Homo sapiens: one gene and its partners. The protein of the gene in region 1 interacts with the protein of each later gene in a biochemical or structural test. Each region holds a gene or a part of one and is shown on either strand. Other genes may lie near its edges.

The links.
Region 2: the proteins of PRKN (region 1) and ATXN3 form a complex in vitro, tested with the Homo sapiens proteins (4 studies listed by BioGRID and IntAct, with this or other methods).
Region 3: of the proteins of PRKN (region 1) and SNCAIP, one has a biochemical effect on the other in vitro, tested with the Homo sapiens proteins (3 studies listed by BioGRID).

The regions. Positions count from the first base shown.
Region 1 is NC_000006.12:162,255,596-162,259,443, forward strand, and holds part of PRKN (E3 ubiquitin-protein ligase parkin), read right to left. Parts: intron 1-3,848. UniProt on the Homo sapiens protein: Functions within a multiprotein E3 ubiquitin ligase complex, catalyzing the covalent attachment of ubiquitin moieties onto substrate proteins. Substrates include SYT11 and VDAC1.
Region 2 is NC_000014.9:92,075,583-92,079,082, forward strand, and holds part of ATXN3 (ataxin-3 reference isoform), read right to left. Parts: intron 1-3,500. UniProt on the Homo sapiens protein: Deubiquitinating enzyme involved in protein homeostasis maintenance, transcription, cytoskeleton regulation, myogenesis and degradation of misfolded chaperone substrates.
Region 3 is NC_000005.10:122,310,737-122,314,336, forward strand, and holds the start of SNCAIP (synphilin-1), read left to right. Parts: upstream 1-1,500; 5' UTR 1,501-1,548; exon of another isoform or gene 1,549-2,184; intron 2,185-3,600. UniProt on the Homo sapiens protein: Isoform 2 inhibits the ubiquitin ligase activity of SIAH1 and inhibits proteasomal degradation of target proteins. Isoform 2 inhibits autoubiquitination and proteasomal degradation of SIAH1, and thereby increases cellular levels of SIAH.

The DNA of each region.
Region 1 (3,848 bases):
ACTTTGGACTGCAAGAAAGTAAATTCTCCGAGTCCTAGAGGTAGCAAGAAGTAGAGCCAAGACGGGCTAAGTTGCTTGGCTCCGGGGCCCACACTTACTGCCAGTCGGCTTAGCATTTGCATGGCAGACACATCACAGCCCAGGTACCATGAATGCGCTCAAGGATTCAAAATCAATGTCTGTCACCCTTTTTGACTGCATTTTCTAGCAACAAAAATTCTGTATTCAGTGCGTAGTATATACCAGGAACTGTGGTAAACACTGGTTCAAACGATTTTCATTTAATCCACTGAAGTAAATTATCGGCCATTTGATTCCCTTCTTACAGGAAGCAAATCACAACCCCACTGATGCACTGGGACTCTAGTGAGTTTAATTATCATGCACAGAAAAGATTGAGCATTAATTTGCAAAGAATTAGAATCTAATAACACACCTCTAACACCAAAGGTAGTCAACCTTTGGGGATTGAGGAAGAATTGTAAGATCTTACAGAGCATCAGAGGTATCATTTGGAAAATTAATTATAGTCAAATAGATGAAGAAGGTGTAGGAGTTTGGGCCTGATTCTGTGAAATTATCAAAAAGTACTCTAAAAAAGAATGTAGTGATATTTTCCTTGTCATAAGGGTTTCATTTTCTATTATATAATAGATATTTTATTAATTCTGTTTTTCTTACATAAGTAGACCATAAATTCTTGATTTATGTATGAAATGTTTGGAAGCTACAGGTCATACAAAATAACACCTTCTATAAAATTTCACAAAATTTCCATTAGTCCTTATTTACTCAGAACAAATTTAGAAAGATTGAAAAGAGTGTATTACAGACAGTTAAATTCTACCACTTAATTTGAAATTTTTTCTTTATCTTCCCTTTAAGAAAGTGGAATCCAGCAGCCTGCCTGCATTTTTGGCAGACTCTGCAATAATTACGATGCTCAGATGATTCCCAAGATGGACCTCCCCAGCTGTAAATACCCTGCCTCCACGCTCATTCCTGTCAAGTGCAGATCTCCCCATCTTGGCATATGGGCAGTGTCCTCTGAAACACTTCAGGGTTTGAAGAGTAAAAGATGTAAATGATTTGCTTCACTGGCCATGTAGGCCTCCAGGAGAGGGACACCCAGACACTACCATTTGTAGAGGCCTGTCGTTAGAAGAGCACACTGTCCAGCCAGGCCTCATGGAGTCTTGAATGCAATGTCTCCCTTCCCCTTGAAATCACAATATGACCTTGCAGAGGTGACTTCAGAAAAATCAAAACATTTTGAGGCTCCCTACAAGTACTTTACTTAACTTCAACAACCAATGCTGTCATTTCTCACCTACTCTCCCCCACAGTTACTTTTTATTTCTTTATGTTTCAAAACAGATAACCAACCACAAAAAGCAAAACAATTCCCACAGAGGCATGAACCCAAACAGGCACGAACAAAAGCACAAGGTAGACGGGGCCAGCCTCAGCCTGTGCTGCCCCGGCATGGTATTCCTCTCCGCAGCTTTTTGTCAATTGCATGCTGACACTCCTTCCCGCTCTATTTCATGACATGTCTCCTCTCCTTTTGGAAGCATATAAGCAAAAACATGGGGCTGGGTGTGGTGGCTCACACCTGTAATCCCAGCACTTCAAGAGGCCGGGGTCAGTGGATTACCTGAGGTCAGTAGTTCCAGACCAGACTGGCCAGCGTGGCCACAGTTTTTCTTTTTTTTTTCTCAAAAGCAAAAAATTCTGAAAAAGTAGTATACCTTGTGATATAGTTTTAAAATCTGACTACTTGGCTGAAATCAATTAACATGACTCTTCAAAAAGGTCCATTTTAAGACTATATCTACTTTCTAACCAAAACATCTAGAGGAAATGCAAAATTTCCTTTCACCTGATAGCTATATTCAGGAAAACACAGGCTACTGGATATTTTACATAAGCTCTGAAGTGAGACGGTCCCTGGGTACGGCTTGAATTGTCTGGGTCGGTTCCTCAAGTGGTCTCTGCAGTTTCCTCATCTATAAAGAGGATATGAACATGGTCTACCTTACAAGGCTGCAAGGAATTAAAAGAGGTATTTCAGGGAAACAGGGTTTCTATAGTGCCAGGTTTGCGGCAAGCACTCACCGACACCGCCTGCAGGTATGGCCCGTTCGCGATGTTCTGGGCAGTGCAGCAGTTCTAGGATTTGAAAACCTTCCGGGTTGTGTTGCCTCCACCCTTTCCTCCTGCAGTTCCTTCACAAGCAGCCAGCATGAGGCTTCCTGAAGTCAGATCATGTCACTCCATTGTTCAAAAGTCAAATTTTCTCAACAGGGTCAAATCCTGGGCCCAGCAGACCCTACCTGACCTCTCCACCCTGCCCTTTTTCTGACATCCTCTTCTCCGAGCTCCACCTGCTCCAAGCTCCACCCCATACTGGCTGCTGCGTTTTCTGGGCGGGGGCCTGCCTGGGGCTCACGAGTTGCTGTCGCCTCTGCCATTTGGCACACAAATGGATGCTCCCTGAGGGTGCCCTCCTCACAGTTTAGCTCATCACACAGGCCTCGCGGCTGCTGTATATTACGGAACTCCCCACCAATACTCTTTGTCCCCTTGACTCTGCTGTTTCTCGATAGAACACACACTTACTAGCTGCTCCAAATAGAATAGCTCCGTTGAGGTAGGCATCTTGTCTGTTTCTATTTTCTGCTACATCCCAGTACCTGGCACTGTGCTTGGCACAGAGTAAGGACTCAATCGTTATTTGTTTATGTAGTTCGTTAACTGTATGACGGATATTGGAGGAGCCTCCTATTTTTTTGCTAGGTCCAATAGCTTCATCTCATCTGTCAGGAGATGATGAATGGCGCCTCATTTAGGAAACACCAATAACACATGAAGGTAATTTACACACAGGCACCCTGGAGCCCAGGTGCAGCTCAACGTTCTTATTGAAAATGTAGTAAAAATAGATTTTATTCACTGACCATATTTTAAGGAATACTATTTTTTACTATTTCGGGCAGTACTACTCAAAGCACAGCCCCTGGGCCCGCGGTGTTAGCATCACCTGGGAGCTTGCTGGAAACGCAACTTCTCAGCTTCCATCCAAGGCCAACTGGTCTGGGCCCAGTCATCTGTGCTTTTATAGGTCCTCAGGTGATTCTGATGAGCACTAAAGCTTGAGTGGCACTGCTGTAAAAACTACTTCAATGACTCGTTCCAGTTCTTTGACGTCCTCTTACAAGTCTTTAGTGTGACATGCTTGCGTTCTTAGTACCAACAGTGTAACTGGTTCTTCATGTACATCATGTTATCACCTCTCATGTTGACCACTTATCTTTTGCCAACTAAAAATACTTGAAAGGCACCTTCTCGGGTTTCAGAAGTTTCCATTTGTTTCGACAACATATGAGGCTACAGCCCAGCTATTCACCCATTAGAGCCCTCCCACGTCCAGCCAGCACTTATATTCTTCGAAGTTAAAATTGAAGACTCTGGAAGCACAGAAAATTGGGATTTCTTTTAATCTCTTTTTCTGAGGCACAGGTTTTCAAACATTGTATAACCAAGGATTTTTTTCATCTTTTCAAATGATAGATGTTTTATGTGTTTAATATGTGAAGTACGTAAAGAGGAATGGTCTCAGGCTGCTGTGATTGGCTTGGTGTGTTCACCTCTCACCGACCTGCCTCTGTTCTCCCACCCAGCGTCCGATTGTTCCGTGAGAACAACAGGTAGGATCCATAATTGTAAGGCTGGAAAACCTTAGCCATAGGGCAGAGTTTCTCAGAGTATGGTCAGTACCAACATTTTGGGGCCTCTACCCCCAGACAAATACATCAAAATTTCTGGTCACAGAAAAAGAATGAAAG
Region 2 (3,500 bases), on another chromosome or scaffold:
ATACTCAAAAAGGGAAAAGAAAAACTAGAAAATCGTATGAATAACAAATCAGCACCAGGGTCAATTTGGGAAGGGTGAGAGGGAAGAAAGAGTTAGCTTGATAACCTTAGACCCAAGCTCCCAAAGACAGAACCTAGAGAGACAACGAACTACCTAGGCTAAGTAATCAGGAATTTTAGTGAAAGGCAAATATTAGCTTCTTAGCTCCTACTAATGAGCTCTACAAGGTTTTGAATGCAAGCCATTGTTAAAAATGAACATCAAGAAGTTAGTTCTTAACTCTTCTCAGCAACATGTGACTATGTAAGATATTCTCAAGCTCTTTCCAAATTCTCACCAGTATTTGCAAAGTCAAGCCAAGAGGCTGAAGCTGGTAACCATCACTGCACACTTTCCTCCTCAATCAATCCTCCACCAAGTAGGAAGGAGGTATATCGATATTCGAACATTTTTAAAAGGGTACAAGGTTGCCTGACCCTGTTTACTAAAAAGCACTAGTTATTGCTGACATTGTACTTGTTATAACTTACTTAGTCATTATTGGACATTACTGAATTATCGTTACTACTATAAAAAGTTCAGGCCGAGTGCAGTGGCTCATGCCTGTAATCCCAGCATGTTGGGAGACCCAGGCTGGCAGATTGCCTGAGATCAGGAGTTCGAGACCAGTCTGGCCAACATGGTGAAACCCCCTCTCTACTAAAAATACAAAAAAATTAGCCCGACGTGGTGGCATGCGCCTGTAATCCCAGCTACTTGGGAGGCTGAGGCAGGGGAATTGCTTGAACCAGGGAGGTGGAGGTTGCAGTGAGCCGAGATCGCGCCACTGCACTCCAGACTGGGTGACAAAAGCGAGACCTCGTCTCAAAAAAGAAAAAAAAAAAAAAAAAAGCTCAATTTGTTGGAAGTTTCATATTTTTAATCCAGTTTTTAAAAAATTTTAAGTAAAAGAGCAGTTTATTTTTATGCTTTAAATATACTTTTCTTTTCTTAGATATACCTGTAAATTTTGTATTATAGTTTCTCTATGATGTATGTCTTTAGACCATTTTATTTTGACAAAAAAGACTCTGATGGCTGGGCGCGGTGGTGCACGCCTGTAATCCCAGAACTTTGGGAGGCCGAGGTAGGCAGATTGCCTGAGCTCAGGAGTTCGAAACCAGCCTGGGCAACATGGTGAAACCCCATGTCTACAAAAGACACAAAAATTAGCCAGGCATGGAGGCACTTGCCTGTAACCGCAGCTACTTGGGAGGCTGAGGCAGAATAATCGCTTAAACTCAGGAGGCGGAGGTTGCAGTGAGCCGAGATCATGCCACTACACTCCAGCCTGGGTGACAGAGTGAGATTTCGTCTCAAAAAAAAAAAAAAAAAAAAGTCTGAAATAAACATGGTGAAAGTATCACATGGGAATTATTCTGGAAAGCAATTTAGAAATCTGTTCCAAGGCCTTAAAAATGTTCATATCCTTTAACCCAATAATCTGACATCCTCAGAAAAACTAGAAGAAATGATAAGACATTTGAGGTGTAGAGGCAATATAAGAATTGTTCATTGCAATATTAATTATAATAGCAGAATTCAAAAGGCTCACATATAAATTATGCCACATCCATTCATTTTATGAAATATCATGCAGCCTGTTACAAAGACTATTTACTGTCATAGGAAATGAGTACAACACTTACAAGGTAAGTGTGTATATGTCACAGAAAAAGAATGTGCCAAAATACTAACATCAGTCACTGAAGGAGGTGAGAGTATGCTTTCTTTTTTTTTTTTGAGACAGAGCCTCGCTCTGTCGCCCAGACTGGAGTGCAGTGGTGTGATCTCTGCTCACTGCAAGCTCCACCTCCCGGGTTCATGCCATTCTCCTGCCTCAGCCTCCAGAGTAGCTGGGACTACAGGTGCCTGCCACCACACCCAGCTAATTTTTGTGTATTTTTTAGTAGAGACGGGGTTTCACTGTATTAGCCAGGATGGTCTCCATCTCCTGACTTCGTAATCTGCCTGCCTCGGCCTCCCAAAGTGCTGGGATTGCAGGCATGAACTACCGCGCCCAGCCTTTTTTTTTTCTTTTTGAGACAGTATCTCGCTCTGTCACCCAGGATAGAGTGCAGTGGCACAATCTCGGCTCACTGCAACCTCCACCTCTGGGTTCAAACGATTCTCCTGCCTCAGCCTCCAAAGTAGCTGTGATTACAGGTGTGCACCACCATGCCCAACTAATTTTTTTGTATTTTTAGTAGAGACAGGCTTTCGCCATGTTGGCCAGGTTGGTCTTGAACTCATGGCCTCAAGTGATCTGCCTGCCTCAGCCTCCCAAAGTGCTGGGATTACAGACATGAGCCACTACGCCTGGCCATGTATGCTTTAATTTCTATATTTCTTTTCTCTTTTTTTTTTTTTTGAGGCGGAGTTTCACTCTGTCACCCAGGCTGGAGTGCAGTGGGGTGATCTCAGCTCACTGCAACCTCTACCTCCTGGGTTCAAGCGATTCTTCTGTCTCAGCCTCCTGAGTAGCTGGGATTACAGGTGCCCATCATCATGCCTGGCTAATTTTTGTATTTTTAGTGGAGACAGGGTTTCGCCATGTTGGCCAGGCTGGTCTTGTACTCCTGACCCTCCTGACCTCAGGTGATCCGCCCACCTCAGCCTTCCAAAGTGCAGGGATTAGAGGCGTGAGCCACCGTGCCCAGCCAATTTTGATATTTCTTAAAATAAAATTTTTAGAATGTTAGTTTTTCTAATTAAGTAGATTTAAGTTATTTTTTATTATTTATTTATTTATTTATTTGAGATGGAGTTTCACTCTTTTTGCCCAGGCTAGAGTGCAATGGCACGATCTCGGCTCACCGCAACCTCGCCTCCCGGGTTCAAGTGATTCTCCTGCCTCAGCCTCTCAAGTAGCTGGGATTACAAGCATGCGCCACCACGCCTGGCTAATTTTTTGTATTTTTAGTAGAGATGGGGTTTCTCCATGTTGGTCAGGCTGGTCTTGAACTCCTGATCTCAGGTGATCTGCCCACCTCAGCCTCCCAAAGTGCTGGGATTACAGGTGTGAGCCACCGCGCCTGGCCTTAGATTTATTTTTTACATTAACTAGATAATTGATGATATAGAATTACAATTAATTATTATGATTATTATTTTATGACAATAGCATTTAACTATGTTAAAAATAAAGCTAATATATTTTAGAGACACATATTAAAATGGTTATAGAATAATATGATGATTGAGATTTGTTACAAAATAATCCAAACTTGCAGGTGGGACAGTGGAAAGAATGGGAGATGGGAGTATTATAAAACGAGATTGGGCCGGGCTCAGTGGCTCATGCCTGTAATCCCAGCACTCTGGGAGGCCGAGGCAGGTGGATCACTTGAGGTCAGGAGTTTAAGGCCAGCCTGGACGACATGGTGAAATCCCGTGTCTACTAAAAATACAAGAATTAGCCAGGCATGGTGGTGTGTACCTGTAATCCCAGCTACTTGGGA
Region 3 (3,600 bases), on another chromosome or scaffold:
ACAAAGACTGCAGGCAGTCTTAGGCTAGTTACCCAGGAAACCCCAGCTTTAAACAACCAGAGCCTTCCTTTTTTTGTTGTAACAAGATCACACATCCCCATTGCCACTACTCAGATAGTGCCGGGTGTCCTAGGATCTTGGCGTCGCTCTTGTCCTCTGGAACAGGCATGGGAATGAGGATGCCTCTAAACTGACCAAGACTTACTTCCTCATGCTTTTCTCTGGGGCAGCATCAGGCAAGCAGCCATACCCTGGAACAAGAGTGTGGTCCTCAATGGCTTTGCTGAGTGAACTTCTCCAAGTCATCTCGCCTGGGAAAGAGATTTCTCAAAGACCATTTAAAGCTTTCCAGAGGGCAACAGCGAGACAGTCGCGAGCCAAGGTTACCATAAATGCTTCCACAACCCCTGATTTCATTTCGGAAATAAGGAAAGAAGTAGTCACCACTGCAGGCGTTGCTTACGCCTCATCCAGCAGCCTCCCACCCCCAATCCCTCAACAATTAAGAGACAATAAAAGTAAAGATAATATTACTGTAGGGCCATTGGTACACTGAAACGTCGTTGAATTAAAAAGTCTTTATTTCAGCCTAACATCTTCTCCATCCACCCACACTTGAGCACAGAACATTCCAGGCAGGCAAAGCCACCCTTGCCCTCCTCTCCTTGGCCACGTCCTCAGGGGTGGGCGAGCTTCGGGGGGAGGGGTGGGGGTGAAGACTCCGTGCCAACGCAAAATACTCTGCCAAAAGGCTTCTCAGACATGAGTTTCCCAGGGCAATGCCCACCTTCCGTTCCCCGCCTTCCCGAGTCTCTTCTCCCAGTTTATGCTGGAACCCTGGAATGGTCTGGGGACCAATGAGATGGCAGCGGTTAACGCTTGGATCACGGTGAGGGGGCGATTTCCAGGGGGAGAGGCCAAGAAGCAAGGAAGGGGGTGGGGGGCAGGAGGAGAAAAGTGGGAAGCGCGGACAAAAAGTAGGCGGGGAGGAGAGGAGAGCCCCAGCTGGGGAAAAGCAACGGCAGTCGAGGTAAAAAGAGCGAAAGGTAAAGAAAGAGCAGGTTCGTGGACAGGAGCCGGCGGGCAGGCCGGGGGATCCCTGGTGAGGAAGCGGCGAGGGAGGGGCGTGGGCCGAGCCGGGGGCGCCGCGGGGAGGGTCGCTGTCAGTCAGGCCGAGCGGGGCTCGCTGGCCTGGGGGCGGCCGCAGGGGCGCAGCGCAGCCTGAGGGCGCGGCGGCCCCGGCAGCCTCCGCAGTGGCAGTGGTGGCCGCGCCCCCGTCCCCGGCCGGGCGCCCGCGCTGCGTTCCTTGTCCCCCAGCGCCGGCTTCGGGCCGCGGCCGCCCAGGCTGCCCCCGCCCGCGCGCGCCCGTTGGGGGGCCCGGGGAGCGGCGCCCGCGGCCGGGCCGCATTGTGACGTAGCGGGGCCGCGGCAGCGCCTCCACCGCCCGCCTACTTCGGCTGAGGCTGTTCTGCTCCTGCCGCTGCGGTCCGTCGGTCGGTCAGTCAGTCCCTTCGCGCTCCTGAGCCGCCGGCGCGCCGGGCGCCCCGGGTGAGTCCAGGTCCCAAGCGGACGCCGCGGGGAGGCGGGAGGCGGGCAGCCAGCGGCTCAGCCTTTCCAAGTTTGCACCAGGCGACCCCGGCGGGTGTCGCCCCGTGCTCCCCAAGCCCCGGGACCCCTTTGTGCCGCGAGTCTCGGCTGCTCCGGGCAGCAGAGGCGCCTCTGCAGAAAGGGTTTGAGGGGGAGGTCTCTATAGTAACAGTAACAGTGGTGGCGGCAGCGGCTGCTTTACTGGGGAAAGGGGGAAACAACCCCCGCCTCGGTTTCCAAAGGATTGTTCTTTTCATTTGCCCGCCTCATGTGGTTCTTATTCTTGCTGTCACCCGGGATCTTATCGCAGGCAGGGATGGGCAGTTCCGCGGCTCGGAAAAGCTGAGATAAGGAGGGGCGAAGTAATAGTAATAGCGACAGTACTAACAACGGTAATAATAGCTGTAGAAAAGGGACGTCTGGTGTTGCTGCCGCCCCTCGCTCATCAGCACCAGCTCCCCGACTGCCCTGTCCAGCCCGGGCTCCGCCAGCCTCCCTCTAGTGCTGTTCTGCGTCCCAGGCTGGTCCGCGTGGATTTCAGAGGGGAATGTTTCTCTCTTGGCCTTGTCTCTTGGCGATGACTTTCATCTGCAGGTGGTAAGTGGGGTGAACCCAATTTTAGCTAATTGTCAAAGGCCACATTTTGTTTATTTCATTTTTACGAAGAGAAAAGAGGGAAAATTATGAGCCATTACTGGCAGCCATACAGTTTCCACAGGAAATACTAGCATTCTTTGAGGAACACGCTACTGCTTGCAGCGAAGAAAGTCTTAGGAAACAAAAAGGCAACAGCATTGTTGCTCATTTTCAATGGACGGCTAGGAGGGGGGAAACGTGTTGTTTTTTCCTGTGGGAACGTTGCTTTCCTTGGGAAAGTTAATTAAGGAAGCATTACTGTCGGTGCCCCTTTTCACTTGCTGGAGGCAGGATCGGATTCCTCTTGGCTGTTACTGACAAGTGCCCATCAAAGAGCCCGGAGGACGGGAGAACTGCTGCAGGACAGTCTCGCCACACACCACGTGCCGTGGAGCCTGGCCAGGGTGCAGTTTGCAAAATGAAATAAGGGCTGTCTGGGGAAGTTTATGAGGATTACATGTGTGCACAGTATGTCAGTTCTCCAAGGTGTCACTCTAAACACGTAATTTTCAAGCACTACTTTCGTTGCTGAATCTGTAGGAAGGGAAAAACCTATTTTTCTTTTATGGAGCAGACATCCCAATTGGGAATGGGTTGAAATCTGTATTTCATTTGTACATATTGAAAATTTAAAAGGCAAAGAACAAGGTGTAGGAAAGCAGTATGCTAATGTGTACACATCTGGGAGAGAAAGTCTATTGACTGTTTCTGATGCATCTCAATGTTAAATTACATTCAGCATGGTTAGAGTACAAGGAGACACCTTTAAGCAGTCCTCAAGACTTTTTGGAAGGTGCAATATTTCGGTACTGATCGCGGAAGTCTCTCTGGAAAGGGAGTATTAACTGAGGATTACCCATAACTAAATATGTATGCATTAACAGGTCTGGAATCAGAAAGTAAAAGATAGTGCTTCTCTTAAGGATCTTTTGGACACCTCAGTTAGAAATAAAATATAGCATGGGATTTTGAAAAGAAGGGGTATAATTTTGAATGTAAATTTCATTTTCTCCGTAGCAAGCATTTCATGAAGAAAAGTTACAGATAGTAGATTTGAAATGATGCTGCATTCATGAATTTGACGGTTACCATTTGTTGATATCCAAAAGGAAGTGACTAAAGCAAATGCATTTCTCTGTCTACTCTGTCACAACTTTCCTAATTCCAGACAGTTGTTCTGGTGCAGGTGTACAGTGGAAATGCAAGCCAAGAAACTTTGTGCGTGCTATTGTTTTGGAAGAAATTGTAGCAGTACTTTACTGCTCTTAAGGGAAACCCACACAAACATCTAATACAAACAAATGATCTTTGATATTAGCAGAAAAAGCCTGGAGCTGTTTTTCTTGCCAGATTTAAGGCATTTCTTGTCAAAAGAGG